2 separate regions of the Homo sapiens genome follow, and region 2 is linked to region 1. The links come from fine-mapping of genetic effects on gene expression. A gene starts in region 1. The other region holds a variant in brackets. All regions are shown on one strand. Distances are between the middles of the regions.

Region 1 (2,892 bases):
GCAGCTTCAAGCAGGAGGGGCCGTGCCCCATCCTGGGGCCATTGCAGTTGCCAGCAATATGCTGGGGGTGCCCTCTCCATGGTGCACGGGCCCCACTCACTGCACCTGTGGGCAGATGTGGCCACTTAGGCCCCAGGAGAGCAGTGTTGCCCACCAAGACCCCCAGTTCACCTGAACCTCCAAGGAACCAATTGCAAATGTAAGCTTTTTCTCACTGTCAGTGGGAAACCCTTGTGAACGCTGGGTGGAACCTTCCACAAAATGCCAGAACTTTCCTCCTCTGCCCACCTGGGTTGGGGTGTGCACATGCAGGTACACACACTGTCTGGGATGCTCTGAGCCCTTCCAGGGTCCTCTCTACTTGTGGGGACGTGGGGAGGGTGACCAACTTAGGGACCCTCAGTCCGAGGGCGGGTGGCCTCTCCCTCCACTCCCTCCCTCTCCAGGGCCAGCGGGCTCCACGGCTGGGAATTTCCCCACGGGTGGGCCGAGGACAGGCAGCTGTTTCCTGTGCTCCTGGGAGGAGGGGATTTCCAGCCCCTTCCCTGCTGCTCTGTTCCTAGAGGCCCCTCTCCACTTGCAACTTCAAAAATGAACTTTTGGATAATCACAGGCTGGTCACAGTTATTTGAAAGGTGCAGAAAGGGCCCAGGGAGCCCCCAGCCCCGCACCTGCTCCCCAGCTCTCCGGGCAGTTCGCATCCTCTGGGCAAACCTGGAACCTGAGAACTGTTTGCATAGAAGGTGGAAACCTGCCTGCGTGCCCGTGTGCGCCAGGCCATCCAGGACCCACCCTCACCACCTCCTCAGAGGCCTGTCTCCAAACACTGCCACATGGGGGTTAGGGCTTCCACGCAGGAATTTAAGGGGCACAGTTCAGCCATAGACACCTGCCGTGCTCAGGCACACTCAGCGTGGGCTGTGGTCACGGGTGTCTTTTTTTTTTTTTTTGAGATGAGTCTCGCCCTGTCGCCCAGGCTGGAGTGCAGTGGCGCCACCTCTGCTTTGCAACTTCTGTCTCCTGGGTTCGAGTGATTCTGCTACCTCAGCCTCCTGACTAGCTGGGATTACCGGCGCCCGCCACCACGCCCGAATAATTTTTGTAGTTTTAGTAGAGACGGGATTTCGCCATGTTAGCCAGACTGGTCTTGAACTCCTGACCTCAGGTGATCCACCCGCCTTGGCCTCCCAAAGTGCTGGGATTACAGGCGGGAGCCACCGTGCCTGGCCATGGGTGTCTGTCTTACCATGGCTGTGGTCACTGCTGCTCAGAGCTAGTCTTGGGCATACAAGGGGGACCATGCTTCAGCAGTGCCACAGCCCTGAAGGTCCAGACTGAGGAGTTGCCTCTCCTGACTCAGTGCTGCCTCAGTTTACCCACGTGCTCCATGGACCTTTTTGCTGAGGGTCGAGCCGCAGGCCAGGCCCTACTGTGCCCTGGGGTCTGAACACGGTGGTCTTGGGCAGAAGAGGTCAGAAGGCAGAATAAGCCAATGCTGGGGGTGCCCAGACCCCGCCTTTGTGCCCAGCCCACAGCCAGGGTCCCCGGCCTGCCACCTTCCTCCTCCCGCCTCCTCTGCCCTCCTCCCCTCTCCCCTCCCCTCCTCCACAGTCCTTATAGCCACACCCCGCAAGGAAAACCCAGACTCTGGCGACAGCAGAGACGAGGATGTGCGTGGGGGCTCGGCGGCTGGGCCGCGGGCCGTGTGCGGCTCTGCTCCTCCTGGGCCTGGGGCTGAGCACCGTGACGGGGCTCCACTGTGTCGGGGACACCTACCCCAGCAACGACCGGTGCTGCCACGAGTGCAGGCCAGGTGAGGCCTCAGGAGGGGTCGCCACGCACGGGCACTCCAGGGACTGGGGGCTGGGGCAGGGATGGGCCAGCCAGGAGGCTGGTCCTGGGGAGGGGGCGGGTGAGGGGCCGGCCAAGCCTGGCAGAGGAGCCGCCTGGGGGGGTCCACGGGCGCAAGCCTGGGGCCTGACCGCTGCCTGACGCCGGCCTCTGCTGCAGGCAACGGGATGGTGAGCCGCTGCAGCCGCTCCCAGAACACGGTGTGCCGTCCGTGCGGGCCGGGCTTCTACAACGACGTGGTCAGCTCCAAGCCGTGCAAGCCCTGCACGTGGTGTAACCTCAGTGAGCTCCCACCTGGCCCCACAGCCCCACCCAGCACAGGGGGCGGCAGCCTGGCACCCACATTCCCACGCAGCAGCATGGGGCTCCCACAGCCGCAGAAACGAACCTCAAACCACAGCGGGGTCTGCTCCGCCACAGGGGTCCTTCGAGGAGCTGAGGCGTCTCCCAGGGGCACCCCCTCTCCCTCCGGGGGCCCAGACTCGGCCCAGGCCACGTGGAGTCGGGGAGACCACGCTGGCCATGTGGCCTGGCCTTGCTGGCCTGAGCAGTGAGGCTGGGGGGTTGGGCCATGGAGACCCTGCCGCAGGCGGGGCTGGCGGCTGGAGGCGGTGGAGGGGTAGGGAAGGGTGGCTGGGGCTGCCACGGAACCAGCCCCAGGTTGTGGCCAGGAAGGGAGGGCCCAGGAGCCTCGGGGGCTGCAGGGGCTCCAAGTCTCAGGGGAGGCCGCAGACCCCTGCCCACGGCCCTCTGTGTGGTGGGGAGGCCAACCTGTCCTCCAGTGCCCACGCTTCCTGAGGACCCTGTCCACAGCCCCCACCTGACCACCCCCCCATCCGGCCCCTGCTCAGGAAGTGGGAGTGAGCGGAAGCAGCTGTGCACGGCCACACAGGACACAGTCTGCCGCTGCCGGGCGGGCACCCAGCCCCTGGACAGCTACAAGCCTGGAGTTGGTGAGCTCGGTGGCTGCGGCCGGCGGTTGGGGGTGTGCATAGCGGCTGTCTGTGACGCAGATGGGCCGTGGGCCGCAGGGACCTGGCC
Region 2 (2,892 bases), 22 kb before region 1:
TCTCCGGTCTGAGGTGGGCGGTGGCGGGTGCGGGGCCCCTGGGGGAGGCTGGGGCCGCTGAGACCTTCGGATGCCACCGGAGGGAGGGCCTGGGGCTTGGGTTTCCTTCTGCTCCAGTCACCGGGCTGGGTCCGGCCCTGGGTCAGCGGGGAGGGGAGCTGGACTGCGGCCCTCCTGGGCTCCTGTCCTGCCTGCCCGGCCGGCCCTGGAAGATCTGCGGCCACCTGTGTTTACTCTGGAGGATGCAGCTGAGGAGGTCCTGGCAGGGCCACACTCGTAACCCCTGGCTTCTCAGCTGTGGGCGCGGTCTTGCACCCTGGCTAGCTGAGTTGAGGGGACTTTGCGGCATCTGTGGCCCCGACCAGGGCAGAGTACCCGAGCCCCAGCCCAAGGAGAGGCCTCGCTGGGCAACGCGACCAGGACAGAGGCCGAGGCTGGATGGGTGGGGAGCGCCTGGGGCCTTCCAGATCCTCCTTCCTGCCCCTCCCGCCTCCACCTCCCTTCAGCCCCTTGGCTGCAGCCAGCTCTCCTGGGATCACTCATCCACTGTCTACCTCCACTGGGAACCTCGGTGAGGGAGGCTCAGATCCTTGGGGAGGGAGGAGGGGGTGGGCCCCAGAGAGACCTTCCGAGGAGGACAGGGTGGGGCCAGATCTTGGTTCTTCTCCTCGGGTGGTTCTGACCTGGCCAGCGTGGTGCAGTGTGGCCATCAGGGCAGGGCTAGCGGCACCAGCATCTAGCAGGGAGGGTGCGGAGGGCAGGGAGGCCAGAGAAGGAGGGGCTGTGAGTGCTGGGGGTGGGGACCCACCCTGGCCCTGAGGGAAAGGAGTGTGTACACCCACAGAGGCCAACTTGATGGGGTGGCCTGGGTTTCAGCTCCCAAGGCTGTGGGAAGGTCCTCTGGGTGGGGGCTGGGAGGAGACCTCAAGGGGAGGCCCAGGGGTTTGGGCTGTGCCCCCTCAAAAGCCTCCTCTTTGAGGACCCCAGAGATTGGCCAGGCCTGTGGGATGGACACAGAGGTCTTTCCCCTCAGCCCACAGTGGGAGAGGGAGACGCCAGCTCACCTCAGAGTAGGAAACCAGGAAAAAGCGCCAAGCCCTTCCCAGGCCCCTGAAACCAGGGAGCAGGCCCCACACAGCCAGTCCAAGGAGCTGGAAACTTCTGACAGGCTGCTGTGGGCCCAGGAAGCAGGGCCTTGCGCGAACAAGGGGCCTCCTCTCTCCTCCCGGCCCCGCTCTGGGTGCGGAGGGCCTGGCACGCACCTGTCTCTGGCCACCTGCTCCCGAGGACTCCCCAAGCCGTCTGGGCCGCTGGGGCTTCCATTCCTGCAACGTCAGCTGGTCTCACAGTGCCACAGCTGGGGAGCCTGGGGCCGGTGGGGCCACAGGAGGGCCGTGACCCCCTTAGACCTGAGGACTCTGAGCTGGGACAGTCAGCCAGGGAGAGGGTGGAAGAGTCTGGGGTGACCCAGGCCGCGGGGGCAGCCCTGCTGCAGGCTGGACTGATGGAGGCCTGCCGGGAACAGGG[T/C]GTGTGCTGAGCCCTGCGGGGAGGAGATCTGGGCCCAGTCAGTGCTGGGCGTCTGTGATGCCACAAGGTTGCAGGAGCCCCTGCCTGCGTCTGCACCGAAGAGCGCCGGGCACAGGGAACTGGGCTGGCATCCTGGGGCTGCTGGACGGGGCGTCTTCCCTCGCAGCCCTGGAGGCCACGCTCCTGACTCTGGGTAGAGCCCTTCCTTGCCTGGTGGGGTGGGGGTGGAGGGTCCTCAATCCTTGGCCTGCAGAGGCATCGCCTGGGTGTCAGTCTCTAGCCACACAGTGGCTTTTTCCCAGGTCTTTTCTGGTAAGGACACCAGTTCCGTGGGAGTAAGGCCACCTCAGGACCTTGCCTTAACGCAATTCCACCTGCAGAGACCCGACTTCCAGACAAGGTCAGTTTGTAGCTGCTGGGTTAGGGCTTGGAATATCTTTTAGGGGGCACAGTTCAGTCCCGTAACAGGAGCCTTGACAGCCAGGATCCCAGCCAGACACAGGTGGGCAGGTGGGAACCTGGAGGCCTCAGGGGCGGGGGTGCCTCCGGATGCAGGTAGCACTTTGCATCTTGGGGGTGACCAACCAGGCCACAGGCCCGGCGGGTACCCAGGGCTGGCCCAGAGAGCTGGAGCCAACGTCAGGTGCCTGCATGCCAGCCTCAGGGGGCAGAGAGGCAGGACCATAGTCCCCAGGAAGAGGGCAGAAGGGGGTGCTCTCCTCCTGGGGGATCCTGAAGGGACCAGAGCCCATCCTCTTGGCTTGACCTGCATTCCCTGCCGGCCCTGTGCCTCCTGGGGGCTGTGTGCGTGTGGCTGCGCCGTGCCCGTCCAGCCCTGACACTGTCCCCTCCATGGTAGGTTCTCGGGGCCACTAGAGGAGAAACATCCGTGTGGCTGAGGAAGAGTTGGCTGTTTTGTATCCCAAGTTCCCACATGGAAATGAATTCGGTGACCCCCCATCTCCCGAGGGCCTCCTGGTTTGGCCCTGGTCTCCGGGAACCGAGTACCTGGGTGGGTGGGGAGCTGTACAAGCTAAGACCAGGGAAGGACGCCTGGGGGACGGATGCCACGGCCCGTGCACGGTCGATTGGAGCCGCAGGGCAGGGAGGATCTACAGGGCAAGTTCCAGGTGAGACCAGAGAGAGCTGCAGCTGCCCCGGCTCTGGAAGCCCCCAGCCCTCCCGAGGCCCAGCCTTCAGCCCACGTATCCTCTGAACCCGTTCACCACGGTACGGCTGGGGAGGGTCAGCCTGGGGCAGGCTTTGTTCTGATATGAAATTTAATGTCTTAGGCTGAAAAACACTAAATTTCCATTTTTTTGTAGGTCAGAAGTGGTTGCAAACTGGATTTTTAGACTCTTCCTG

The links. PIP is the estimated chance that this variant, and not a neighbour inherited with it, causes the effect.
Region 2: its variant is fine-mapped to the expression of TNFRSF4 in whole blood (TOPMed, PIP above 0.99).

Annotation. Positions count from the first base shown.
Region 1 is chr1:1,212,904-1,215,795 of GRCh38, reverse strand. TNFRSF4 (TNF receptor superfamily member 4) reads left to right here and starts at 1,643. Exons shown (of 7, transcript NM_003327.4): 1 at 1,643-1,813; 2 at 2,011-2,133; 3 at 2,703-2,804. The coding sequence starts at 1,669. RefSeq lists a silencer at 2,516-2,565.
Region 2 is chr1:1,234,939-1,237,830 of GRCh38, reverse strand. It overlaps B3GALT6 (beta-1,3-galactosyltransferase 6), which reads right to left. Exons shown (of 1, transcript NM_080605.4): 1 at 2,790-2,892. Among named protein-coding and RNA genes, the nearest start is that of B3GALT6, 4.1 kb to the right of the region's middle. The variant T/C (reference allele first, on the strand shown) is at 1,528.